Homo sapiens: one gene and its partners. The protein of the gene in region 2 interacts with the protein of the main gene of each other region in a pairwise test. Each region holds a gene or a part of one and is shown on either strand. Other genes may lie near its edges.

What was found.
Region 1: the proteins of CPNE7 (region 2) and ZNF18 interact in binary tests that used the Homo sapiens proteins (3 or more experiments, as listed by UniProt).
Region 3: the proteins of CPNE7 (region 2) and NECAB1 interact in binary tests that used the Homo sapiens proteins (3 or more experiments, as listed by UniProt).
Region 4: the proteins of CPNE7 (region 2) and OTP interact in binary tests that used the Homo sapiens proteins (3 or more experiments, as listed by UniProt).

What each region holds. Positions count from the first base shown.
Region 1 is NC_000017.11:11,994,462-12,001,382, forward strand, and holds the start of ZNF18 (zinc finger protein 18), read right to left. Parts: upstream 3,015-6,921; 5' UTR 2,970-3,014; intron 2,912-2,969; exon of another isoform or gene 2,812-2,911; intron 2,650-2,811; exon of another isoform or gene 2,349-2,649; intron 1,219-2,348; exon of another isoform or gene 1,097-1,218; intron 1,066-1,096; exon of another isoform or gene 1-1,065. UniProt on the Homo sapiens protein: May be involved in transcriptional regulation.
Region 2 is NC_000016.10:89,578,743-89,585,767, reverse strand, and holds part of CPNE7 (copine-7), read right to left. Parts: intron 6,912-7,025; coding exon of another isoform or gene 6,772-6,911; intron 2,325-6,771; coding exon of another isoform or gene 2,240-2,324; intron 2,072-2,239; coding exon 1,997-2,071; intron 1,741-1,996; coding exon 1,666-1,740; intron 995-1,665; coding exon 911-994; intron 305-910; coding exon 215-304; intron 82-214; coding exon 1-81. UniProt on the Homo sapiens protein: Calcium-dependent phospholipid-binding protein that may play a role in calcium-mediated intracellular processes.
Region 3 is NC_000008.11:90,787,263-90,794,782, reverse strand, and holds the start of NECAB1 (N-terminal EF-hand calcium-binding protein 1), read right to left. Parts: upstream 3,009-7,520; 5' UTR 2,897-3,008; coding exon 2,798-2,896; exon of another isoform or gene 2,615-2,797; intron 1-2,614.
Region 4 is NC_000005.10:77,635,699-77,642,748, forward strand, and holds the start of OTP (homeobox protein orthopedia), read right to left. Parts: upstream 3,016-7,050; 5' UTR 2,852-3,015; coding exon 2,815-2,851; intron 1,533-2,814; coding exon 1,123-1,532; intron 1-1,122. UniProt on the Homo sapiens protein: Probably involved in the differentiation of hypothalamic neuroendocrine cells.

The DNA of each region.
Region 1 (6,921 bases), on a different chromosome or scaffold from region 2:
ATGCCTTAAATAGTTGATTAACATACATTTTGCATGTTACTGTATTTTTGTGATAAAGTAAGTTAGACAAAATATTATTAAGAAAATTATAAGGAAGAGGCCAGGCCAGGTGGCTCACGCCTGTAATCCCAGCACTTTGGGAGGCTGAGGTGGCTGGATCACAAGGTCAGGAGATCGAGACCATCCTGGCTAACACGGTGAAACCCCTTCTCTACTAAAAATACAAAAAATTAGCCAGGCGTGGTGGCGGGCGCCTGTGATCCCAGCTACTCGGGAGGCTGAGGCAGGAGAATGGCATGAACCTGGGAGGCAGAGCTTGCAGTGAGCTGAGATCGTGCCACTGCACTCCAACCTGGGCGACAGAGCGAGACTCCGTCTCAAAAAAAAAAGAAAAAGAAAATTATAAGGAAGAGAAACTACATTTACTATTCACTAAGTGGAAGTGAATCACCATAAAGGTGGTCACCTTCATCATCTTCACACTGAGTAGCCTGAAGAGGACAAGGAACAGGAGAAGGAGAAGGAAGGGTTGGTCTTGCAGTCGCAGGAGTCACAGAGGCAGATGAAAATCCTTGTATAAATGGACCCTTGCAACCGTAATCCAATACCAAATGTTTTTTATGTGGTCCTCATTAAATTTATTTTTTGCTTAAAAAGAAACCCAGGTCTGAGCGCAGTGGCTCACGCCTGTAATCCTAGCATTCTGGGCGTCCAAGGCAGGGGGATCATTTGAGGTCAGGAGTTCAAGACCAGCCTGTCCAACATGGCAAAACCCCATCTCTACTAAAAATACAAAAATTAACCGGGCGTGGTGGTGAATGCCTGTAATCCCAGCTACCAGGGAGGCTGAGTGAGGCAGGAGAATTGCTTGAACCCAAGGGGGCAGAGGTTGCAGTGAGCCGAGATCACACCACTGCAAGAAAAAAAAAAAGAAACCCAGGCCAGGCGCGGTGGGTCACGCCTGCAATCCCAGCACTTTGGAAGCCCTAGGCGGGAGGACCACCTGTGGTCAAGAGTTTGAGACCAGCCTGGCCAACGCAGTAAAACCCCATCTCTACTAAAAATACAAAAATTAGCTGGGCATGGTGGTGCGCACCTGTAATCCCAGCAACTCAGGAGGCTGAGGTAGGAGAACAGCCTGAACCTGGGAGGCGGAAGTTGCAGTGAGTCAAGATCGTACCACTGCACTCCAGCCTGGGCGACAGAGGGAGACTCCATCTCAAAAAAAAAAAAAAAAAGAGTCAGTGAAGTCAAAAAATCTGAACACTATCAACCGACTTGCTCTAATTGACATTTTCAGAACACTAGACCCAAGAACTGCAGAGTATACATTCATTACAAGTGCAAAGAGTATTCATCAAAACAGACCATATGCATAATTTTCAAATGACTGATATCTTAAAATTAGCTCTAAAAATATTACGCAAAGTGGTATTGCTAAAAAGCCATTAAAGCAATACCAAAAAACACTCAAAAACCCAATATCTGATAGAAAAGGAACACAAGAGAAACAAAACCAGAAAGGTCAAATGGAAAACTTTAGAGCTTCCTGGGTTCAAATATATTCTCTGATCATAGTGCAATTAAAGTAGAAATCAATAACAATAACTAGAAAATCCCAATTTATGGAAATTACTAAATAATGCTCTTAACCCATAGTCAAAGAAAAAAATCACAAAGGAAATTAAAATATGTTTTCATACTGAGTGACAATGACAGCATTATCAAACCACCTGAAAAGCAGCTTTAGCTCAGAGGTAAACCTACAGTTTCAAATAACATCTTAAAAAACGAATAAATATATTTTTAAAAATACCTTGCTTTGTAAATCCAACCTATTTGGCTCAAGAGTTTCAAATAACAAGCGGCAAGATTTTAGATAGCAAGATACCGACCTGTAAACTTACTGCAATTTATCTGTTTCCTAAATTAAGATAGCAGTTTAGATAATATTTAAGAGAAATGACATTTTGGAAAAACTACAGATTTTATAAAATACTTAAATCTTTTGTTAGTAATATTATACTCCCAGGTAGTGTGTAAGAAAAATGTCTCGATTATTCAAAATTAAATTACTTTATATAGTATTAAAAATTTAATAGAGTTTATATTCCGATAACCTCATGAGGAACTGCCCCCATTAGTTATGAAAAAAAAATAAGGTTGTCTGTTATACCTGTTATTAAACCTTTAACAAATAGAATGAATTTTTAAAAGTGCATTCTAGGTGTAATATACACAAGTGGTTACATACATGGTTACATATATAAGTAACCATTTGTTAAGCACCTACTACGTATCGGCTCATTATTAAGCTCGGTTCATGTATTTCCAATTCCCACAATTACCCTGGTGTACAGATCAGGAACCTCCGAGGCTCACAAGTGGCAGCCAGATTAACCCAGGAAGCTCTAAAGCCTTTGCTTTGGGGAGAACTGCCAACGTCTGGTGATTTGTTGGGGCGTTTTCTGGTTGTCACAAGCAGCTAGGGGAACTGGCATTTAGTGCTCGAGGCCAGGGCAGCGCTGCTCATTGGATATGTATTCTCCACCATGCGCCCCCCAAATGCCGACTGCACTCTGATGAGAGAGGGAGAGACTCCAGGCATCATCCCATCGGGTTTCCTCTTCCAGAGACTCATTTTCAGCCCTTAGGGGAAGACAGCGGGGAGGAGCCCGTTTTCGGTCCCAGTGCAGAGACCCGGCCGGTCCCGCGGGGCGCAGAGGCGCAGGAATGCAGAGCCGGGACGGGGTTCACACATCCCCCCGCACCCACGGTCCACTCCCAGCCATGGCTGCCCCGGCCCCGCACTCGCCACGTCCCCCGCGCGCTCCCAGACGCATGGGCAAGGGAGCCCGCTGGCCCCTCCGTAGCTCCGGGGTGCCCAGCTGAGTCAGGTGCGGACGCAGATAGCGCAAGGCCTGACCCCGAGCGGCCGGAGGCCGGGACCGCCCCGCAAGCGCGCTCACCTCGGCCCGCGGCGCCGGCTCCGGGCGCACTTCCGGGAGCTGGGTGGCTGCGCGCGCCTCAGGCGGCAGGCGAACGACGTGCGGCACCGGGCGGAGCTAGGGGGCGGGGGCGGAGCTGATACCGAAGCTCCTATTGGCCGTCGGGGACGCCCCGCCTCTCTCTGGCGTTGCAGCCCAGGAGCCTCCACCGACATGGCAGCGAGGTTCCCGAGCCAACGCCATCCTCCGTTCCTTCCGTCACTCACTCACTAATCACTGTTCCTGAGTTCCTTCACTTCTCACCCGTCATTTATTGCGCACCTATTCTGTGCCAGGCACTCGGCCAAGCACTGCGAGGCCTTCAAAGATCATTTCTTTGTCTCTCCCAAACCCTTCCGCCCAGTCCCACCCGCAGAGCTGCAACGCTCTGCCATTATCCCTGATTCTTAACCGCCGCCTTTCTCCTTTCCGTTCTTGCCTCACTGGGCCTCCCTGAGACACTTGATTTGCCCCAACCTTCTTCCTCTGTCTTGGTTCTCCCACTCTCATCAGCTCTGCATCCCCTGGGTCCTCTCCCACTTCTCCCCATTCCGTTGGGGCTAGTCCAATGTGGTGCCATCCTCTTTCCACCTGCGTCTCTCTCTCTTCTCTCTCTCTCTCTCAACAAATGTCATCCCTGACTCTTCCCTTCTCCTTCCCTTTCCCACACGCCAACAATGGCTGAATCCTCTGATTTGACCTCATTGTCTCTCAGACACCTCACCCTCTCTCCCTTCTCACTATCCCTCCCTCGGCTCAGTTCCACACCATTTGTAATGGTCAAGACCTTCTTACCCTTTCCCCAGCGTCCAGTGTTGCCGGTTTCCAGGCCATCCTGTGCTGGGCCACGACATCAACTTGTGATACTAAGTTGCATTAATGGAAGTATCATGTCAAAGTTTGGGTGTTCCACCTTGGGCAACTGGCAAAGAGGAGGGTATTCAAAAAAAGCTGCCATGTTCCCCAATAACCTATGGAAATAAAATAAATAAAAAATAAAAATTTAAAGAAGAGCTGTCATTATCATAACATGTCCTGTACCTGTCATTATCATAACATGTCCTGTACCTGTCATTATCATAACATGTCCTGTACCTGTCATTATCATAACATGTCCTGTACCTGTCATTATCATAACATGTCCTGTACCTGTCATTATCATAACATGTCCTGTACCTGTCCCATGTTTACAAGAATTAAAGATCCTCCTCTGGAGAAATAAAGCTTGATGCGGGGATGGGATTACATCTTCATGTACCTGAAAAGTGACCAGCGGAAAAGGGATTCGACATGTTCTCTTAAGTCCCAGGGTCTGAACAAGATCCTATGTGTGAAACTACTGTTTCAGCCTGACATAGGTGGAAGTTTCTAGTCTTTTTTTTTTTTTTTTTTTTTTTTTGTATTTTTGGTGGAGACGGGGTTTCACCATGTTGGCCAGGCTGGTCTCGAACTCGTGACCTCAAGTGATCCACCCACCTTGGCCTCCCAAAGTGCTGGGATTACAGGCATGAGCCATGGCACCTAGCTGGACGTTTCTAACATTCATGTGATTGATGGCGCTGCTTTGAGTTCCTGAGGACAGCATGGCTAACAATTTACCAGGCACATTTAGAGGGACACCTTCATTGGGTATTGCTTCCAACATCAATGTGCTCTGCTTCTAAGAAAGTCAAGAGATAAGGTGGTTTAGAGGGGAAGATTATAGGAGTTTTATCTTCAATGTGTTCGCTTTTAGCTGATCAACACCCAAGGAAGATAACAGTAATTCAAAACCATTAATTGGGTTCTGACTCCTTTGTGAATCTGATGGAAGGTAAAATTTTTCCCAAGAAAAATGCACATACACATCTACATACAACACTTTGCACTCAAATCCAGGGAGCTAACACAGCCTTGAAACCCATCCTTGGAACCCACAAACCTCAGTTTGAGAACTCTAATCCTGGTAGATGGTTCCTGATATGAAAATGACACTTTGAAGTTTAATAATTTCTTTATAAACTGGCACCTTAGGAAAAGGCATAAACACTTATTTCGAAACAGGCTGAACAATCAAAATATTTTTTAAAATAGGGAGATATCTACCTCAGCTTAGGAAATAATGAAAAGGTGTCATCTATTTCTATTATTCACTTACTCATTCAATAAATATTTACCAGATGATGTGCCCAGCACTCTTCCAATAGCTATATATGCAAGAATGAACTAAACACACAAAGTCCCAGCCCTCCCAAGACTTATATTTTGTAGGGTGAGCTGGACAATAAATAAGTGCACAAGTGGTAATTATAGGTGTTGTGAAGAAAATTACATTGGGGTAAGGAGGAGAGGTACTGTTAGAGATGGAGTGCAAGTTATATAGGATGGTCAGGGAAGGACTAACAGATAAAACAGGCTTGAATCCAGACCGGAAGTTAATTAAGACGCAAGCCTTGCGTGTATCTGTGGGAACCTCCAGGCAGAGGAAATTGCAAAAGTTTTTGTTGTTGTTGTTGTTTGAGACAGAATCTTGCTCTGTTGCCCAATGTAGTGCCAGAATCTCAGCTCACTGCAACCTCCGACTCCAGGTTTAAGTGATTCTCCTGCCTCAGCCTCCTGAGTAGCTGGGATTACACATGCTTGCCACCGTGCCCAGCTACTTTTTGTATTTTTAGCAGAGATGAAGTTTCATCATGTTGGCCAGGCTGGTCTCAAATTCCTGACCTCAGGTGATCCACCCACCTCAGTCTCCCAAAGTGCTGGAATTACAGGTGCGAGCCACCAGGCCCACCCATAAACGTTTAGGCCATGAAACAATGAGTGACAATAAAGAGAAGCACTATAAAGACCAAGCCCTGGACCACGCCAACATATAGGGTCAGGGTAATAAGAAAAATCTATTAAAGGAGAAAGAAACTGAGGAGCCACTGAGGTAGCAGGAAAACAGAGAGTGGTATCCGGGAAGCCAACTGCATAAAGTGTTCAAAGAAAGAAGGAATTGCTGGGTGTGGTGGTTCACGCCTGTAATCCTAGCACTTTGGGAGGCCGACATGGGCAGATCACCTGAGGTCTGCACTTCGAGACCAGCCTAACCAACATGGAGAAAACCTGTCTCTACTAAAAATACAAAATTAGCTGGGCGTGGAGGTGCACGCCTGTAATATACAAACTGGCACCTTAAGAAAAGGTATAAACCCATAATCGCTTGAGCCCAGGAGGCAGAGGTTGCAGTGAGCCTAGATCACACCATTGCACTCTAGCCTGGGCAACAAGAGCGAAACTCTGTCAGAAAGAAAGAAAGGAAGAAAGAAAGAATCATCAACTAATCAAATGCCATGATCAAATGTAAGATGAGGATTAAGAATTGACTGAGCAACAGGAGTATAAAATCACTGGTGACCTTGACCTTATAAGAGTGGTTGGGAGTAGAGAAATCCTGAATGGAATAAGTTCAATAAGGAACGAGAAGAGAAGAATTAGAGCAGCAAATATAGACAAGTCATTCAAGAAGTTTTGCTATAAAAAGAAATAGCAAAATGAGACAAATTAGGAGATCTTACAGCATGCTTACACACTGATTAGAATGATCCAGTAGGGAGGAAAAATTTGTATGGAAGGGGAGAAAAGTGACAATTACTGAAAAATGTTCTTGAGTAGAGATTGATTTTTGAATAACAAGGCTTCTGGGTACTCACATAATCTAGGCCACATGGAACACTCACAGAAAACAATCTCCACTAAAGAGGAGCTTAAAGTCAAAAGTTACAAGCCACACCAAAAACAAATCCTCGTACAGAGAAAACGGGGAATAGAGAGGTGTTGATCAAAGGGTACAAAAAGTTCCAGTTAAACAAGAGGAGTAAGTTTTAGCAATCTATTGCACAGTGTGGTAACCGTAGTTAATAATAATGCATACCTCGGGCCGGGCGCGGTGGCTTACACCTGTAATCCCAAC
Region 2 (7,025 bases):
CTTCTGCATCTCCTCGAAGGTGGTAGAGAATTCTCCGATGAAGTCGTGCTTTCCTCGAGAGTCGTAATCCCAGACCAGGCACTGGGGAGCCCAGTCCTCCTCAGCACTGCTGTCTGGGGGCCCCAGGACCCTCCCACCCGAGCCCAGGTGTCTCCATCGCAGCCCACATCCAGGCCACCCCCTCACTGCCCCCTTGGTCCATCCCGTCCCCCACCTTTAGAGGCCTTGTCTCCTCGCAGCTGCAGAGGGAACTCAGAGAGACTTTGAAGGCCTCCCACACCGGGTTCAGGTTGTTCTTCACCACCTGTGGGCCGGGAGGGGCTGGCTCAGGGGAGGCCCAGGGCCCTGGGATCCTTGGGGGGGATAGAGACCTGGGTGGAAGAGCAGCTGTGAGGCGGGCACAGCTGGCCCTGCCCCTGCATCACCCCAGACAGCGCCGGGGCCCTGAGCTGGGGCTGGCACCCACTCCCTGCACGAAGCCATGTGAGGACCCGGGAGACACATTTCCGAGCCCTGTGCCTCCACCTTCGTAACTTCTGCCACCTCTGAGCCACCTGCGCTGCTCTCTTCCTTAAATAGATTCATTTTCACTCAAGTTAATTTCTCTCAAAAGAAAGCACTCTCTCCCTGCCGTCGCTGAAATCCCATTTCACCTGCAGGAAGTGGAAGGTAGGTCTAAAAATAATCACAGCCACGACTACACAAGCCTGCTGGATTCTGGCCACAGCCACGGCCCCCAGGGCCCTGCGCCTGCGGCTCCCTGTTGGATTCTGGCCATAGCCACAGCCACCAAAGCCCTGCGCCCACAGCTCCCTGTTGGAGGCTGGGAGCTCCTCCCATGTGGCCAGAGATGCGTGAGGGCTGGGGACAGCCCCTTCCCCTCCCTGTGTTCCCATCCCCGGCCGCTCACCTCCGTCCTGTACACCAGCTGCAAGCCCTGGTCGTCGTTGACCCTGTAGAGCTCCAGGAAGGGGTCGGACTTGCTGAAGAGGTCCTGGGGAGAGGCACAAGGGCTGCTGGGCCAGGCACTGTGAGATCGGGCTTTGGATGGGAGCTGGCTTTGTCGTTTCCCAGGGCTCACTTCATGCCACCAGCCGCTAATTCCTCAGGCACAAAACGAGGCAGCCAGTCCCCGCCGACAGCATCTCGTCCCTCCCTCCCGCCCCCAGGGATCTGACCACGGCGGGCAACTCAGCCCTCCATGGAGTCACCCTGCACACCCTGCGACTCAGCCCTCCACGGACTTGCCCTACACACCCTGCGACTCAGCCCCTCCAGGGAGACGCCCTACATGGCGGGGTTGGACCCTGTTCTGCCCACCCACGTGACGAGCCCGCAGAACCGCGCGCTGTTCCAGTTCCTCCTGTCACGACAGTGGCCTCGGGGGTGCTGGGCCTATTTCCCCATCCCTGAGCAGGGTCATGAGTGGTCCCCACAGGAGGGAGCTGCCCCAGCCCCAGCCCAGCTGCCAGGAGGGGCGGGAGAGCTAATGGCGGTGACAGTGATGATGGCGACCGTGACGGCAGCACGCCCAGCCCCAGGCACACTCCGCACACGTCTCACACGGGACATAGCCACGCGAGGTCAGCGCTGGGCAGGGACCGGGTTTTCGAACCGGTTCCCGGACCTCAGCCTGAGCCAGGCGTGCCCGGCACCTGCACTCACCTTGTCGTCCAGCTTCCTGGCCCGGAAGGAGAGCTCCACGTAGCCGTTGTTCCCCGAGATGTCCTCGGCGATCACCTGGCAGGGGGACGCCCGGGCTCCAGGCTTGGCCAGGTGGGGCCTGACCCCACCGTGGGGGACCAGAGGCCCCAGGCTGGCTGACCCCACCCAGCGGGGCCTGAGAGGAGGTGTCTGTGTACCCCCGGGGCTGTGTAGCTGCCGGCTCCTGCAGACCCTCCCTGGACGGCACGCTGCTGCCCATCTTCCGCCCACAACACCCCTCGGAGCCACAGCAGCAGGGCCTGCAGGCTGCAGGGGTGCGCCCGGGTCTCACCGTGATGGTGGACTTGCCAGCGTTCCTGCCAAACTTGAGCAGCAGCGGGCGGGTCACCTTCTTCTGGGCCACAATCTGTAAGTCAGAGGCGTCAGGCAGGGAGGGGCAGGCGGGGACGGCTCCTGACCCTGGAGACCCCACCGCGCCCTCACCCGGACTCTCAGGCCTGTCCTGTCTCCCCATCCCCCACCATGAGCTTCACTGCCCAGGGCCCGCGCCCCCTTTGTGGCTGCTCTCAAGCACCTGCCATCCCTGCGTGTGGCCACCCCTGCACGTCCACCACCTCACGGCGCCAGCAGTCGCCCAGGGGAGGCAGAGGTCATCATACCTATTTACCAGGTGAGGAAACAGGCTCAGGTGGAAGCCAGGAAGCAGCTCACAGCCCAGCTGGCCTGCACCTGCACAGGTGTGGCGGACGCCCCTCCACAGGTAAGCAGGGCTGCCCTGACCCTCTCCAGGCCCAGGTGAGAACCCGCAGAAGCAGAGGCGAGGCAGCTCAAACGGCCCCGGACCCTCACGCCCAGCATGTCCACGTAGCCACGGGCGGCAGAAAGGGTGTGAGCGAGGTGCCGGCCCAGGACCCCACCGCCCACTCCTCTTCGAAGGTGCCAAGGAGCAGAGTTGATTGTTCGAAGTGGACTGGGGCTTAGACCCTGGGGACCTCCTCATGCAGCCGGGGCCTCCTCCTCCTCACCAGGCCCTGCTGGACTTCCGCCCCATCGGCTATGAGCCCACCTGGGGTGGGTGGCGGATGACAGGCCCAGGCCCCTGCAGCCAGGTCATCTCCTCAGTGAGGAGCAGGACGGGGGCACACGGCCCTCCCAGGCTCCGTGTCCGAAAGGAGATGGTGATGACCCCGGCCAAGCGGGGTGGCCGTCATCTCCTCACACGTAAGTGATCTCAGCAACCATCGAATGGCCCACCAGGTAGCAGGTGTGTGCTTCCCACCTGCCCTCACACCTGCTACTGCCTGGCGGATGCTGGGAGGTCACAATGAGGTAGGTTGAATACAAAGCAGAGAGGGGCAGTCCCTCCACCCCCAACCAGGGCCGGCCTGGCCAGCAGCTTCTGAGCATGCGGCACTTTCCACACAGAAGAGAAAGCAGATCCCAGGTCAGGGCTGGGGAAGTCAAGTCAGGTTAAGGGGTGGGAAGGCTCTCTTAGGGGTGCAAAGGGGTCCTGGGTGCTGGGAGGGGGAGCCTCGGGCCAGGCCCCCCAAGATTCCCTGATTCAAAGGTTTCCTTCTGGGGCTCCTGAGCCAGGGCCTCTGCCTCACACCTGGGACTCGCCTGCCGGCCTGGTTTGCTTCCAGGGAGGGCGCAGGAAAGGAGTGGCCTCCCCTTTCTGGCAGGAGAGCAGGTCCTTAGGAGAGAAACGGGCTCAGGCTAACACAACAGATTCCCCTACCAGGAAATACGAGATCGCTGATTTGTGCCAACAGCGTTTAATAAGCACTTCCTGGATCCCTGGCTCTGGGCTGAGTTACTGTTTACTTGAATCACATGAGGAAACAGTTGAGGCAGAAGTCAGGGGTCAGAGGTCAGGTCAGGCTCAAAGCCACAGCACAGGGACTGGATGCCAGTAGCTTCTCCCTTGACCGTGGTGCCCTGCAGGTCAGCTGGGTGGCCACAGAGCAGGAACCCACGAGGGGCCTCCTCATTGCTGGAAGTTTGCACATATCCACAGCACACGTGCTCACACACACATTCATATCTGCACGCAGGTGTCCACACGGACCCTGTGTGTGTGCTTATGTGAACAGGCATAGGATGTCCTGCACGGATTATGACATACATGTGCACCTGTGTGTACATAGAAAGGTGTCCAGGCCAGACACAGTGGCTCATGCCTATAATCCCAACATTTTGGGAGCCCAGGGTGGGTGGATCGGTGAGCCCGGGAGTTCAAGACCAGTTGGGGCAACATGGTGAGACCCCTGTCTCTTCAAAAAATGCAAAACGTAGCCAGGTCTGGTGGCGTACACCTGTAGTCCCAGCTACTCAGGAGGCTGAGGTGAGAGGATTGCTTGAGCACAGGCCGTTGAGGCTGCAGTGAGCTGTGACTGTCCCACTGCACTCCAGCCTGGGCGGCAGAGTGAGAACCCAACTCAAAAAAACAAAAAAAGCATGTCCATATTTCTGTGTCCGTGCCATCCTCTTCCATCTGTGCCCTCCCTAACTCTCAGTTTCCTTATCTAAAAAATGGGGAGGACAACAGGATCGATGGCACGCCAGCTCCGACCGAGGCTGCAGGGGGATGAGTCACGCAGACATTATGTTGGGTAAAAGAATTCCACAGCAGGGAGAACACGCGCTGTGATTCATGGACGTGGAATTCCAGAAGAGACGAACCAGGCGGGGAGCTGGCCACAAAGGGGCAGGGGCAGCTGCGGGTGACGGGATGTTCCGTGTGATGGGTGACGGGATGTTCCGTGTGACGGGTGATGGGATGTTCCGTGTGATGGGTGACGGGATGTTCTGTGTGACTGGTGACAGGATGTTCCGTGTGACGGGTGATCGGATGTTCCGTGTGAGTGGGTGATGGGATGTTCCATGTGATGGGTGATCAGATATTCCGTGTCAGCGGGAGACGGAATGTTCCGTGTGACGGGTGACGGGATGTTCCATGTGATGGGTGAGATGTTCTGTGTGATTGGTGAGATGTTCCATGTGACGGGTGATGGGATGTTCCGTGTGACAGGTGACGGGATGTTCCATGTGATGGGTTACGGGATGTTCCGTGTGACGGGTGACGGGATGTTCCGTGTGACAGGTGATGGGATGTTCCGTGTGATGGGTGAGATGTTCCATGTCAGCGGGTGACGGGATGTTCCGTGTGATGGGTGAGATGTTCCATGTGACGGGTGATGGGATGTTCCGTGTGACGGGTGATGGCATGTTCCGTGTGACGGGTGATGGGATGTTCCGTGTGATGGGTGACGGGATGTTCCGTGTTACAGGTGACGGGATGTTCCGTGTGACGGGTGAGATGTTCTGTGTCAGCGGGTGATGGGATGTTCCGTGTGATGGGTGAGATGTTCTGTGTCAGCGGGTGACGGGATGTTCCGTGTGACAGGTGAGATGTTCCGTGTGATGGGTGATGGGATGTTCCATGTGACGGGTGATGGGATGTTCCGTGTGACAGGTGAGATGTTCCGTGTCAGCGGGTGACGGGATGTTCCGTGTGATGGGTGAGATGTTCCGTGTGATGGGTGATGGGATGTTCCATGTGACGGGTGATGGGATGTTCCGTGTGACGGGTGAGATGTTCTGTGTCAGCGGGTGACGGGATGTTCCGTGTGATGGGTGAGATGTTCCGTGTGATGGGTGAGATGTTCTGTGTGATGGGTGATGGGATGTTCCGTGTGACGGGTGATGGGATGTTCCATGTGACGGGTGATGGGATGTTCCGTGTGACGGGTGATGGGATGTTCCGTGTGACGGGTGAGATGTTCTGTGTCAGCGGGTGACGGGATGTTCCGTGTGATGGGTGAGATGTTCTGTGTCTGCAGGTGATGGGATGTTCCGTGTGATGGGGGAGATGTTCCGTGTCAGCGGGTGACGGGATGTTCCGTGTGACGGGTGAGATGTTCTGTGTCAGCGGGTGACGGGATGTTCCGTGTGACGGGTGAGATGTTCTGTGTCAGCGGGTGACGGGATGTTCTGTGTGATGGGTGAGATGTTCCGTGTCTGCAGGTGATGGGATGTTCCGTGTGACGGGTGAGATGTTCCGTGTCAGCGGGTGACAGGATGTTCCGTGTGATGGGTGAGATGTTCCGTGTGATGGGATGTTCCGTGTGACGGGTGACGGGATGTTCCATGTGACGGGTGAGATGTTCTGTGTCAGCGGGTGACGGGATGTTCCGTGTGATGGGTGAGATGTTCCGTGTCAGCAGGTGACGGGATGTTCCGTGTGATGGGTGAGATGTTCCGTGTGATGGGTGTGGGATGTTCCGTGTGACGGGTGAGATGTTCCGTGTCAGCGGGTGACGGGATGTTCCGTGTGATGGGTGAGATGTTCTGTGTGATGGGTGATGGGATGTTCCGTGTGATGGGTGATGGGATGTTCCATGTGAGCAGATGACGGGATGTTCCATGTGATGGGTGAAGGGATGTTCCATGTGACGGGTGAGATGTGATGGGTGATGGGATGTTCCGTGTGATGGGTGAAGGGATGTTCTGTGTGACGGGTGAGATGTGATGGCTGACGGGATGTTCCGTGTCATGGGTGAGATGTGACAAGTGATGGGATGTTCTGTGTGATGGGATGTTCCGTGTGACGGGTGATCGGATGTTCCGTGTCAGCAGGTGACAGGATGTTCCGTGTGAGGGGTGAAGGGATGTTCTGTGTGACAGGTGAGATGTTCCGTGTGACGGGATGTTCTGTGTGACGGGTGATGGTCAGCTGTGTACAGTCACCTAAACTTGTCATTCTCAACCCTTAAGATTGATGCATTTTATCGTAAAATTTTTTTTTTTTTTTGAGACAAAGACTCACTGTCACCTGGGCTGGTGTGCAGTGGCGCGATCTCGGCTCGCTGAAACCTCTGCCTCCCAGGTTCAAGTGATTCTCCTGCCTCAGCCTCCCCAGTAGCTGGGACTACAGGCACGCACCACCACGCCTGGCTAATTTCTTTTCTATTTTTAGTAGAGATGGGGTTTCATCATGTTGGCCAGGCTGGTCTCGAACTCCTGACCTCGTGATCCCCCCACCTCGGACTTCCAAAGTGCTGCGATTACAGGCGTGAGCCACCGTGCCCGGCCTGTAAATTTTACCTCAATAAAAAAGAAGGACCCGTCCTGGCAAGGTGTGAGGATTCCGTGCAGCACAGGAAGTGCTTAGCGCAGTGTCCAGCAGGGCCCAGCACATCAACAGACACTCTCATCACGACTTGCAGAAGCCACTTTTGGGCTGGCTGTGGAGGCCGTAACCCAGAGAGCATCACCAAGGAAGCAGTGGCCACCGTAGGACCTGCTGCTCACAAGGAGGCTTCTTTTTTTTTTTTTTTTTTTGAGACAGAGTCTCAATC
Region 3 (7,520 bases), on a different chromosome or scaffold from region 2:
TGAAATAACCATAATACTTCAAATTTATGCAATACTTTTTGCTTTGTTTCCATTTTCCCTTATTTCATACTCACAACAGCCTAAGGAAGTATCATAGTGATTACTATTGCTGATTTGGAGAGGATACTGAAGGAAAAGCCAACAGTTGTGGCAAATCTATCTCTGATTTTCTTGTTAAAATCTGTCTCTAGTTTCCAACCAGCTGGTCATGTATCATGTCATTAATAGTGTTCTCAGTAGCAGTTTACATCATTTCTTAAATGATTGATTATTCCAGTGACATTGCAATAAAAAGCACTGCAAATCAAAGTTTTCCTCAAATTTGGAAATTGTCTGTTTGATACAGAAGACACACAGAAAATTACCTGTTCCAGTTTGGAACAGGTAATATCTATCACCTATGTATTATAATATGAAGATAATTTTAAAAGTAATCTTTCTTGCTAGTGCCATAGAATATATTAAATCAAATAAATAAAGTGATGCATGTATATTTTATATTTTATTTTGCTAAAAGTGGTATGATCCAGAAATGAATAATTCACAAATCCCTAAGTAACAAATCATTTTTCATATCACATATTTCACCAGTGTTAGATTTTTCACAAAATAACTCAAAGAAAAGTGTAAACAAAATCTTTTCCATTTGACACAAAATCCAATGGCAGGTTTTTTTTGTAGACTCTAGCATTTTACCGACAAACAAGCATGTCAACACCTCTCATAGGGAATCAGTTTCCTATTTTTATTTTTAAATCTCTGAAATATAAAAGGCAAGACCACCCTATTCACAGACTACAAGTTCCTTTAGTACAGGGACCTGATGCTATTTGTTTACAGACTTGGAAACAATCATGCATACATAATAAAAAATGAAATTTTAATTTTCTCTTCGAAAACATTGCAGTTGAACACTTAAGCAATGGCTGGTGTATGAGTCAGGAGGATGACTTTCCATTTGTGTAGTTTTAATCCATTCATCTCCACACTATCACCGGGGTTTGTTAAGTGCTTTTTAAAAAGCACAGGGAAGCACTTGATCTCAATGGGGGACAGAGTGAAGATCAGGTCAGAATGAATGGAGGCCCCACTTGTCCCCTTTGAATCAACTCCATGGCCCCTTAATTGTCAGCCTCATAACTGACATGATTTCCAGGGGCCCTGACTTTTCAGGCATGTTGTGGTGCCCTTCTCTTTTCTCAGCTTACCTCCTCAAGTGCTTTATGGCCCTGAACAGCAAAACTTGAATAAGATCAGCCCGTTAAGCCATGAGCACCAATAATACCATCTGACTGACCCAAGCCAGGCAGAGATAAATGCTCATGAAGGATAAGGTACTTAACCACCTGATTGGGTGGCTGAATAGGAATGACCACACCTGAGATTTGGTGGGAAGGAGATGACCAGCCCAGAATGCCTGGATCACCAATTGGAGCCACCAGGTGATAAAGGGTGAAGGCTGCCAGTACACACAGTTGAACCTCACTTCTATCATTTGCCTTACAACAGTTTGAATTATTGATAGGAGTTTCTTTCCCTAGAATTAAAAAGAATTCTAGCCAATCCATTCAAAATAAACTTGGGAGAGCGCCTCACATCCTCCTATCCTCTTTATCTCTGCCTCACCATTATGATACTAATTGATTTCCTCATATTTTCATCTCTCCACAAACAAATGTATCTGGCTTCTGGCCCATCTCCCACTCATTTTGACTTTAATAAGAAAAGATAACTCAGAGAAGGGTAAAGGACAGAGCACGTAGCACTCCTCCATGTCCTTTGACATTTTCTATCATGCCTAAACAAGAAGCAGACAGAATTGTCCCCACTGAGATAGACACGACCTCCGGCAACAGCATGAATGTGACAACTGAGGGGCTGGGAGAGCCTGGAGCCCGGCAAGCAGCTGAGAGAAACCCCAAAGCAGAGAGAAGAGATAGGCAACAGACGGAAAAATAGAGAAAACAGAAACAGCAGGCAGGAGAGGAAAACAAAATTGAGAAATAAATAAGAAATAAAAGTGCTGTAAAGATAGAAACCACACCATACGGGAAAAAGAAACAGCACAGAAGGAAAAGAAAGGATGTAATCAGATCAGAGTAATGAAGGCAGGCAGTCGATACCGAAGTGAGAAATTGGACCAAAGGGAAAATAGTCAAAAGCTAGAATTCATGGAGGTGACAGTAGTAATTAGAACTTGGAGAGAAGGAGAATATCAGGGAAGAAAAAGGGAAAATAGAAGAGGTGGCAGTGACAAAAAGAATCATTATGAAAATGATATTTCCCACCGCTGTAAAAAGAAAAACAAATATGCTCAAAGTAATTGTTTTCCGAGGGGGTCTGGGGGAGGATAACGAGGGCATCTCAATCGCTGCTGCTTCCCTGGCTGGGTTGCTTGAGAGCATCCACGAGTGTGAAGGCTGCGAATAGGGCGCGTTAGAGAGATGAGTTGGGACACTGTCCCCACCTCACCCCCCACACCTTGTGCCTCTTTAAAATGTCCTATGCACTCAAATGTTGTCTGTTGTATTTGCAATAGTGTCTCTACGAAACCCAGCCTGTTGGAAAATCTAACTTTTGCAGTTTTCTTAAGGGTGTTAAGCCACAAGCTGCAGGTCTGGGACAGCCCTAGCTGCAAGTTAAGGGACAGTCGTTCCTCCTGCATTTGCATCGGTAGTTCTCGCCTGTGTTCTGGGGACAAAGCATTGGCTGGTCAGCACCTGAGCCGAACCCCTTCCTTTCGGGGAAAAGAAAGGTGCTGGGAAGCAACCGCCCAGCTCCCACCATCTGTACTTACGTCGAGGAAGATCGACATGCCCTTGGACAGGTGCAGAGCAGAGCTGAGCTCCTCCGAGGAGTTGTTGGAGGACGGCGATGTCTCCTGGGAATCTTCCATCCTCGGGAGCCCTGACGGCCTCAGGCGGAGCGGGGCTAGGCGGACGCACCGGCTCTGGCAAGGGCGCGGCCGCAGCTGCTGCTTCGCCGCCGCCGGGCTCTGGATCCGGGAGGGTGTTCGCTCCCGCGCGCGCCTCCCTCCGCGCTCTCCGCGCTCTCCGCGCTCGGTGTCCCCCCCTCCCTCCTCCGGCCTCTGCGCTCCCACGCGCTCCAACTCTCGCCTCCTCCTTCCCGTAGTTGACGGCGTCTGGATCCATGTCATCCCCGCACGTAGCAACGCGCGGAGGGGAGCGGGCTCTGCCCCCGGCACGGCCATCGGCCACGGCTGGAGATAGCCTGGGGACCCCTACCAGCCCCACGACGGCCCCAAGTGCAGGGATGGAGGAGGGCGTCCGGACAGAGAGAAGGGACGAATGGCAGGGCGTTTGTCCTGAGCAGCCAAAGCGCAAGGTAAGGACGCCCCCAGCCTCACCTGAGTGGATGCCATAAATAGGGAGGAACTCAGAGAGGTTCTACCTACTCTGCTTTTGGTCCCAGTGGCCTGTCTGCCCGACCTTCCCCAAAGGCGGGGGCAGGGTTCACGAATACCAGCAATCGAGGAGCAGCTGGTTTGGTGTAGGGATTAAGCCATTCGGTGTTATCTTGCGCTCGAAGGACTTAACCTGTAAGCCTCACTTTTCCTCATCAGTAAAATGGTTACACCGGTCTCACCCCAGAGGGTTCTGAGGCTTACCTATGGCAGTGCTGCTGACAAAGGCGGTGCTATGAACTCTGCCTAGAGTAGGCTTCGAAACGTTTGCTATGGGGCAAGGATTGTTAGGTAATGTTCAAATATGAAGTTTCCCAAAGTCACAAGACGAAGTCCTTATCTGTGTTTAAGCATTTAAACCAGGGTAATTATTCAATATTTGACGGCTTCTGCGAAGGCTGTAAAAATAGGAAACTGACCACACCTTTCATCAGGAGAGAGATCCAGTTTATTGGGCATCTAAAATGTGTATGTGTTGGTTACAAACTTGAGCTATCTGGGAGCGAGATAAGGCAAAAAAGAGGGAACCTTGTCTAAACAAGACTCTGCCTCTACCAGTGAGAACGGGTGAGGAGGATCCAGATCTCCATTTTGTGGCCTTTGGAGAAAAGTAAACATATTCTTCCTATAAGACAGGCCCACACACAACCAAAATGCTGATCAACATGTGAGTGTCTTAAAGGCATGTAAAACATGCTAGGGGTTTCTCAGGAGAGACAGGTTACACTCTGGCTGGGGGGACCAATAAAAGCTTGATGAAAGAAGCGGTATATGAAATGGACCTTAAAAATCAGTGGATACTCCATGCTTGATAGAAATAGAAGGAAAACACTTCCAGGCAGAAGGAACAGCGTAAGCAAAGCATGGCACCAGGAAAGCACGTGGAAGCTGGAAGTAGTCCACTGGGGATTCCTATAAACATACAGAATCCCAGATCCTACCTGGGCTTTCCAAATCCCAATACTAAAGTACTGTCTAGTCCAGAAATCCAAGTCCCCCTCACCCTAATGATTCATACACAGTTGCTATGTAGTAGGCTCAGGACTAGGGTGTGGCAAGTGGGGCCACTTGAGCACAGAATGTAAGGAGGCACTTGCTCTCAATCTCTATCCTGTGCTTGCATGATCCTGAGAATGATTTTCTTAAATTTTGCACCCTAGGTGTCTTGTTCACTTCACCCAAGTCCCACTGCTCCTTTGTAGATGGGTGCTTACAAAAAAAAAAAATGAATCCAGTTGTTCTCAACGCTGCCTGTACATTGGAATCACCTGGGGTGTGTGGTAACTTTAAAATGTGCCCACAAATTCATTGACATTCTTCCTATAGAGAAGTGGGTCCCCTCCCCTTAAATCTGAAAGATTGTGACTGCTACAATGAATGAAATGGAACAGAAGTGTTGCTATGTGCTTTCCGAGGGTAGGGGCATAAAAGCCTTTGCAATTCCACTTTTTACAGTGGATTTGCTCCTGGATTCTTGAACTTCCGTATAGGAAGTTTTTCTACCTTAAGCCACCATGCTTTGAGGAAGCCCAAGGTATATGGAAAGGCAAGTGTAGACACCTGGCTTACAGGTATAGCTAAGCAGAGCCTTTGCATTATCCCAGCCTCAGCAGCAGAAATGTCAATGAGGAAGCCTGCAAATGACTCCAGCTCCCAGCTCTTGCAGACATCCCTAGCCATGTGAGTTGTCCCAGCCAAAACCCCAGGCATCATGGAGTAAAGGCACACTACCAGTGCTGTGCTGTGTCAGAACAGTTGGACCACAGAATTGGGAACATAATAAAATGTATACCGTTTCATACAAATAAGTGTTGAGGTGGTTGGATTTGTAACAATAGATAACCAAAATAAGGAGCTAACCCTCCCTGCACAAACACACACACACACAAACCAAACTGATGCCTGTGCTTCATCCTCAAATTCACTTTCAATTAGTATGCGGTGGGCCCAGTGGATTAATGTTTGTTTGTTTGAAGATTTCCATGTGATTCTGATGTGCAGCAAGGATTAAGAATCACCAAACTTAACTGTGCTGTACATACAGTACAGGAAAAAAGTAGAATAAAATCTCAGAAAATAGGCAGAGGCTATAGGATGAAAATCTGTGAAGCCCGGGGATAGAACTCTGGACTTAATTAGGTAGAGAGTTAGAGACATTAAACTTAATCAGGGGTGAGATATTGATTGGAGCTGTGCTTTAGGAATATTCATCTGACATCTTTATGTGCATTTTCCTAATTAACTGCAAATTTCCTTACCTGAACAGTGAGAATAGACCCTTCTCTTTGACAACTGTTCATCAAAATAGATACAAAATCATTTAAAAAAAAAACATACTGGTCAACCCATCAGATAGACACAGGTCATTCAAATCACTGAAGGAGAAAAACCACGAGAAGGAGGGGGGCTGTCAACCATTAACATCAAGTTACTGAATTTATCAAAATAACATGTTGTTTATTCCTGCCATTGGATGAAGAATGGAATAGATTTTTCTGCAACAAGTGCAGTTTAAGTCTGACCCCTCTAACCCAAGTTGTGCGGGTCCCTCAGCCCTCAAATTCAACCACACAAGTGATAATATTTTTATGCCAATCCCATGGTAACAAGAATAGTTAATAAAGGAGACTTTCTCTGATTATAAATGAAGAACAGGAGAATAATCAGCAGTCATCATTCAAAACCAGGAAGCTGTTTGTAACACTTTAGTTACAAACACTTCAGTTACAGGAAGCTGTTTGTAACACTTTACTGACAATGAATGACATTTTCTGTACCTGTGGATTTGCTTATTTCCTCTAATGGTCTATCAAGGAGAAACATAAATTATTAAGCAATCAACCGATCATTATTTATTTTTATGATTCCTATGTGAACACAGGAATACATTCTGCTGTAACTGACTTCTCTTTTTAATGGAAATGTAATGTTCACAGAGGCTGTAGTAGAAAAAATGGCAATTAGATTCACATTCACAGACAAATTCAATAGGCTCTACGAAGTGGCAACCAAACATATTTTTATAGTTTTCTTTTTATCTAGATGGCATGCATTTTTGAAAGCAGTTTTCACACATTTTCGTGAAACACACATGCCTCACTGCTGTGCATAGTATCAGTCACAAACAGCAGACAACCGACTTGAGGGAGGAAATGCAACTTCTTTGTAGCAAGGGCCTAAAAAAAATAGAAATGTAATTCCAGATTCCAGCTCTCAGGCTTCCTATGATAAGACTTTGACGTGAAGATATTTCTAGCATTTCAGGAGATGATAGCTGTGTGGGAATATATTGTATTTCAATCCATCTCTGCCTTGTAGAAGAACTATTATCTAAACCATTTCAGACAGCTGGGAATCTATCTTATTTATATCTTAAATTCTAGGGAAGGTTATCCTTCCCTTTTGAGTGATGACTCAGAATCCTTTCAGTCAGGTTAGTGGACATTTTTGTTGCCTTGGCAGCTTAGGATCCAAATCCCCTTCCGCTTTAAGTGCCTATCCCCATGGTGTGTTTCCTGACTGGGGGCAGAACTCGCCCCTTCTGAAGGAAAGAAAGGAGATCCTCTCCCTCTTCTCTGGTAGCTGGAGCACAGGCTGAGAGCTAGGCTCAGCTGATAGGACACTTCACTTGTGTGTTTAAACCTGAATCAAGGGATGTGCGGGGAAGTTTATTAATGGCAGTAGACACTCACAGTGTAGTGTTGAGTGTGGCCACAGTGCCAGGGGAGCCCTGAGGATGAATTAATCAAATGGATAATGGCACTCTGTGATTTCAGCAGCCCTGTCCTCCAATCTTGATCTCGAGGCTTTCTGCCGACTTCCTGAGAGACCTAGTATCCTTCCAAAACTTTCTTTTCTGTTTTACCTTAGTCAAAGTTAGTTTTTTATGTTTGGATTCTGACAGATAAATTCAATTTAAATTTCTAGTGTTAAAGAAGGCCATAGTTAAGTCATTGGAAATAGCTGTTTAAAACATTTAATTATCTTCAGACATTTATTGATTGCTTGCTTCAATCCAGGCAACTGACAGGCAAGCTGGGGAAATGATAAAAAGGACTGGCCTTGCCTTTGCAGAACATACACAACTTAAGGAAAC
Region 4 (7,050 bases), on a different chromosome or scaffold from region 2:
TTTTATAAAAGTAGGTAGCACTGGTTTAACAAATTGACCAGGTTGATGACACCCAGGATATCGTACAGAAAATACCACCGTCCAAGACGGCAAAGGAAGATTTTTCAGCACCCTGGATAGCTCAAGAGTGAGTACCGGCGCTTGGAATTTCACCTCCAGGCACCTGTCCATAAAATATTTGATATGTCTTCATTCTTTCTTTTAAAAAACAAAAAAAAAAAACAAACAAAAATCTGGGATTCACTAGGCTTATACTTTTATTCACCAATTTTCAGAATAATTATAGGTGTGATTTTCTAGGTTATATATAATTTACAGCTTGGAGAGTGGTTGGAGGAGAATAAGGGGTCAGCAATGATTTCCTCTACTGCCTGTCAACCTTTCCCGTTCTGAATGCCCCTTCTTCAGACATGATATCCACAACAGAAAGCCTTCATTTCCCCTCCCCCACCGTAGCTTCCTTAGAGGACTCCAAAACAAAACGGGGCTCACCGGCTTTGGGAATCTCGTCAGCTGCCCCCAGCGCACTGGTAGACTACGAAAGTTCAAACCCCTTGCAAACATCAAAGCTAGGAATATTTCGCCTGAGTGCAGAGGGAGGGTGATACTTAAGGTAATAAAGCCACGCCGTGAAACCTGGGTGTAGCACTTTTTTAAAAGGCGCTCATTCGCCTTATTTGCTCTTTTCTCTTGTTTTCTGTATAATTGTTGCATTCCTCCTTTTATCCAAACGCTTAACACAAACTCATTAGGGGGTAATATTTGTCAATAATGCGAGCAGGAGTTGAGGTGTGCGCTCGGCTGGGCCGCCCGGGGGGGCGCTGAGGTTGCCTTCTCAGGCGGAGGAGGCGAACCCTGTAGCCCGACAACGCCGGGCTTCGATTTTGAGGAGCTTCTTCCGGGATGTCGCTATACTGGCCGGAGACGGGCCTTGCGTGTCCATTGGGGGATGGCGATGGGGACCAGTTTCCGGGTAGAGAAGGAGATAACTCGATACAGGAACGCACAGGCAGCCTGAAAGCAGCCCAGGATCTCGACAGGGGAAGGGAAGACCCTGCTCCCTTTGCCCAAATCCTCCCGCCCTGTCCTTGCCTTCTGTCCCAGATCCCAAGCCCCTCGTACCTGCACTCGGGACTCGGTCAGCCCGATACGCAGTGCCAGCTCCTCACGCATAAAGATGTCGGGGTAGTGAGTCTTGGCGAAGCTCCTCTCCAACTCGTTGAGCTGTGCGGGGGTGAAGCGCGTCCGGTGGCGCTTCTGCTTCTGTTGGCCCTGCTGCTGGCCGGCTTGGCTGGGGTTCGGGCCGCCCTGGGGCCCGGGCTGCTTGTCCGGGTCTTTGGCGCTCACCGCCAGCGAGGCCGGAGTAGAGCCCACTGTGGTGATGTCCTCCCCGGGCAGCAGAGTGGCTCCCTCCACTGGGTCAGAGTTGGGCGCCAGGTCCCCCGGATGGCCCCCGGGGTCGGAGCCCCCCACGCCCAGCCTACACTTCACCGCCTCCCGGTGGCCCAGAAGCTCGGCGGCATCTTTCATACCTGAGGAGGCAAGGGGATCGCGGTCACTACTTTCTTGGCGATGCCAGGAGGGGCTGTCTTCCCCGCGCAGCCTTCCTTCAACCCGTCCTCGGCCCCCTCCGCACCCGCGCTTGTCCTAAGGAAGAAACTCCCAGGGTATTCAGCTGGGTTCCCCAGAATTTGGACAGCCGGGTTGGAATAATATCTCCCGGCCCCTTGCCCTCGCCGCAGCCGGCTCCCGTAGTAAACAGCACAAGCTTTCGTCTCTCCCACAATAAAACACTCCCAGTCCCGGCAATAAAACATGCCTCTGAATCCCTTCCATAAACCGTACCCCAGGCGCCCCAGGAAATCGAGAGCAAATCTTTGGACACAGGGGTGCGGGGGGCAGAAAGAAAATTAAACAATTCCTCGGTTGCTGCGGCACCTGCGCTTCGGCAGCCTGACGAACTGTACCTCCGGCCCTCAGCCGATTCCCTCTTACTTTCGGAAGATGAATAAGCCTCCAAGCTTTCACCCCCCGAAATCAACCCAAATCAGCTCCGCCTCCCCCTCAAATCAGAGAAAGTGTTTGGAAAATGGAGTCACATCCATCACCGAAGATTCCCAATCCGGAAACCCAGAGCTCAGCAACCCAGATAGCATTAAGGAAACTCGAGTGAACTCTATGGACAACCGTGAATCAAACTTTAGAGATTTCAACTTTTCTTTCCAGAGAAATAAAAGGCGCATTCCTCACAGCCATTGGCAACGCTGAGTCCCTTGCAGAAGAGGGGGGGATGACTGTGAGGTTGAATTTGGCTTCTCTCCTTCTCAACCAGCACACTTAGCAAATCCGCCTTGATGGCAGCAGCTTCTCCTTTATGCCAGATTTTTTACAAATTACACCACACTTAGAAAAGGAGGAGAGAAGAAGATGGTGGGGAGAGAGAAACGGGGGGAGGGAAGGAGAAAGAAATCCCAAATCAAAACAAACAGGAGAGGGAAAAAAGAGAGAGAAACACCTCCTAACAAATTATCACGGGGTATATCGCCTTTCGAAAAAAAAAAAAAGGCGGGGGAGGGGGGAAGAGAAAAATAAGAAAAACAAAAAGTAACAACATTCCCCAACTCCTTTCTTGGATCTACATATTCCATAGATTTTTTTTTAAAGGCGATGTTAAATCAAATTAAACTTTAATGCAGCACAATTACTTTTAAAGAAATTAGTCCATTTAGGTCGCATTAAGGTAAAATAAGGAACAAATTGACAATTTCCTGCCCCGGCTTCTCCTGGCTGCCCGGGCGAGAGGCGCGCACTCACCTAGCCTGGCGTCCAGGAGGTCGGCATGAGACAGCATCGCGCACCGCTCCAGGGCGAAAGCTGTTCCCCCCCAAATTTTAGCGGCTTTAAGTTATTTAAAATAGATATAAGCTATAAGCTATACGATATAGATATATATAGATCACCTAAATGAAAGAAAATTCGGTTTGTGGTTAAAAAGGGGGCTTCTTGCATTATAATGTCCTTTAGAGAGACGGGGAGGTGCTTAACAGTTGAATGAACCCGTGAGCAGCTCGGCGAGGGGACCAATCAGGAGGGCAGCCTGCAAATGTCAGCGCCCGGAGAGTCCCCCACTCCGCCCGCCCGCTCGCCTGCGCCCGCCTGAAGGAGGCGGCGGCGGCAGCCCTGGCAGCTCCAGCCCGGAGCAGGAGCTAAAGCAGCCTCAGCCGCCTCGGCCTCGCCCTGAGCTTCTGGGCCCGGCTCCCTCTAGTTCTTCCCTGCGATTTTCTCCAGGCTCCCCTTTCCTTCCCCTTGGCCGGCGCTGCGCGCTTCGAAGGCGTAGCTCTGTGCCTCTGAGCTAACATCTTCCTAGGGCAGGGGCAGAGCAGGGGTCAGAGCGGGCCATGACCCTGGCGTGACCTGAGGGTCGCCCCCACCTGCGCTCTCTGGGCCTGCCGCTCATATTGGCCCGCCAGCCCAGGGCGCGACGAGGGCACACCGCGGCCTTCAGACAACGCCTGGACTTCGCCGCGGCTCAGTAGGCCTGCGCCTAGGGTCCAGGCGCCCTGGCTGTGCCCTGGGGTCTATACGAGCCCCAACCCCACAGTGGGCCTAGAGCGCAAAGAGGAGTCGGCTTCCCTGGCACCGCCAGCGCCCGCTGTCTGCTTTGGGGACCCTCGCGGAGTGTGGGTTCGAGCGCTCTGCACTCTTCTCACCGGGCTTCTTCCCGGCTCCTGCTCTTCCGCTTGGCCCACGCCCGCATCCTCGCCCCTAACTCGCTCTTTTGGTCAAAGTTTCTAAGTTCAGCTCGGCTCCCAACTCCACTTAAGGCTGTAAATAAAGTTAAATGCTCTTTATTTTCCTCTTGAATATGTTAAACTACTTGAACAATTTAAAGTGCTTTGCACAAGTGAAGCGAACCATTTCTAATGTTCTGATTTTTCAGAGCCAGCCAACAACAAAGTTTAGATTAGTAATATATTTCTAACCAGAGTAATTTTCAAGATCATTAGGCATTTATGTAATTAGTGCCAAATCTATAAGCTTTTATTACGATTATTAGAGTAAAATCAGTATAAATTTGTACTAATTTACTACTGTTTAGACTTGGCTGTCAAGCCTAGAGGTTCTTATTGTAAATGATAACTGAGGAAATTAAGTGCAAAATTCTGTACCATTTCTGATCTGCTCCTAAACAATCCGTTTCAATTGTATTTGTAGCAGAACATAATGCCCTTTTAAAGTTATTTGACTTGTATTTTTATTTGCAACACAAGAAAAATGCCCTCTACCCAGTCACAATGAAAACTGATATTTACTACTCCCAACTTGATTAACATTGATTTTTAATTCGAGAGTGATGCAATTAAGATTATTCATTTAGTGCAAATAAACCTTCCACAAAAGGGTGGCCCAATGAAGTCTGTTTTAAATAATACTGAGCAAATGGCTTTTTTTGTTCGCCGTCCAATTGACTTAGACAAAACATTGAAAATGCTGGCTGAGAGCAGATGCGAGAGGAATTGTGTGTGTGTGTGTGTGTGTGTGTGTGTGTGTGTGTGTCCTCAGCTGTATGTGTGACAGGGACCGAGCAAGGAGACAAAGGAGGCGGCAAAGCGAACTCTCGGGCAGTTTTGTTTCCTCCTTCCCTCCTGCAGCCCGTTCGCCTCCTCTCCTGCACACACACGTGCGCGCGCACACATATGCACACACGTGTGAATGCAGGGTATTGGCCACACCAGTTTCTTCTGAGCTGCGGAGACCGCTTCCCGGGAAGCTCCGGGCCGGACTGGGTTTCAGCGGCTGCTGCAGCTGCTACCAACGCGGCCTATGTGGGACTGGGCGCCGGGGTCGTGGACTCAGGCTCGCGGCGTGTCTGGGAGCCGCTAGGGTTTTTGGCAAGCGGCCGCAGCCCTTCTGAGAAACGCTTTGCCTGGGAGGAGAATTCCGAGACCTAAAGCAAACAAAGTCTCCCCAATAAAAGCTTTCTTTGCCCCCAAACAAAACCTCAAATCTAGAAGCTAGAGCGCTGGGAGCGCACAGCAAAAGGAGGCCAGACAGCAGCCCAGGGAGGGGCGGCGTGAGCTCAGGACGGTGACTCGGGAGTACGCACCGGCCCGCGCACGTCCAGGGACTCGCAGGAGGTTTCTGCCCACCTGGGTGGGGCTTGCAGGGTGTCCACACCGGAACGCAGGGTCAGAAGTGGGGGGAAAGTGGCTAAGGAAGAGACAGGGAGACCTGGCTCCAGAACCCTGCTCCCAGAAATAGGCAGGTCCGCCAGGCCGCACAGCCTGGCTCCACACGCTGTCTGGAGGGAGGGAGAAGGGGCCGCGACCTGGGGAGACAAGGATAAGGGCGCGGGGCCGCGCGTCTCCACGTGCGTGCACACAAGCGCTAGTGTCCCCATCCCACAGTCGCCCCCGGAACGGCGCCGGCTGTGCAGCGATCTCCCACACGCACTCGCTCGTATATTCTGTTTTGTTGTATCTTTCAGGTCGATAAATGAATGTGTAATAGTTAATGTGAAGACACATCAGAGTAATAACAATGGGACGAAATCAAAGGATTATCCATCTCTGTTAGTAACCGCTGAATAACAATGTTGCGGCATGATTGATAGCCCGCTTCATTTTATGACTTTTCTATTGGTCTTGATTTTTATAGCAGTATAAACAAACTAAATCATTTCTTGCAAGACTTCAGAGCATAAGCATCTCGGGGGGGGGAAGGGAGAAAGGAAAGAAAAAAAAAGGGAAATCTGAGAGTGGGAAGGGGGCGGTGTGGGGCGTCGAGGCGGGGAGGGCGCAGGCTGGAGTTGGAGCCAGGTGCCCGCCGCCAGCAGGCAGAGCGAGAAAAACGACAATAGCCTGGATGTAAAAAGCTCCCCCCTGCTCCCGGTTCCCTCTCGGTAGCTCGTTTTGGCCAATGTCTGAATCCACCTGGGTAGCGCCTGATATGTATTTACCAGAGTTTTATTCCCCGTCATCTTCCCACGTTCCTGGGGCAGCCGGGAAAGTGCCGGTCAGGCCCATTGCTGTTGATAATTTAAGGCATTTCCCACATGATCATGGGAACTGAAGTCCCTAACAAGGCGAAGCTTTAGCGCAATGGCCCCCAAATCTTCGGAATGACAAGAATGTCTTCAGAAATCACTTCAAAGCAAAGTAAAAGGATTTTCTATGACGGATCCAGTGATTTTTCCTCAATAAATAGGTTTTAGATTGTTACACACACGTAGAAGTGGAACAAAGGGAACTACCAGAAAATATATTGGTTGCCCCTAATAAAATTTATTTAGACAGTTTACTTCTCATAAAAAATAGAGATTGAATTTTGTACAAGATCCTGCCAAGGGACGATGCACAGGGAAATCATTTTTTTCTTTCTCCTTTTCCCTCCTTCTCTTTTCTAACGAAGCACAAAGAGCGTTCACAGGCCAGGGAATCGGCTCCTGACTCCAGCCGCCCTGCGCGCCCAGACAGAGCCAGAGAACTCTGTAGCTGCGAGGAAAGTCGGCTTGCTGGGAGAATTAAAAAAAAAAAAAACAAAACAAAAAACAAAACAAAAAAAACTTGATGACTGATAATGTAAATTACAAGCACAGCAACTATCAAATCAGTGTCTTTACTCCTGCTTTGCCGTCCAGTTCCAGATCAAGACTTAGAAATGTGTGTCTAGACCGGGAGGTGGGGTGGGATGGGGCCCCCGGGCAGCTGGTGCCTTCCAGAGGAATTTGTGCTGATTGTATTTGTAATTCTGATTGTCTCTCTAATCGTATTTCTGCGTGCATTGTGAATCCTTTGTAGACACAGAAACAGACAGAATAAAAATATATACCGGGTGTTGTGGGAAGAATTGGGTAGTATGCCCAGAGCCCTAATTGCTTTTCCACTTACAAAAACCTCGGAGGTTTATTAAATGTAACTTTCGGCTGCTTGAGTTGTTTGTAAACTGCTCTCTTTTCTTTGCAGACAGTGGGCTGAAATATGGCGCGTTATTATTCACATTCCTGCTATTAAATGCTGAATTGTAACATTGTTCCCTTTAATGAGGAGC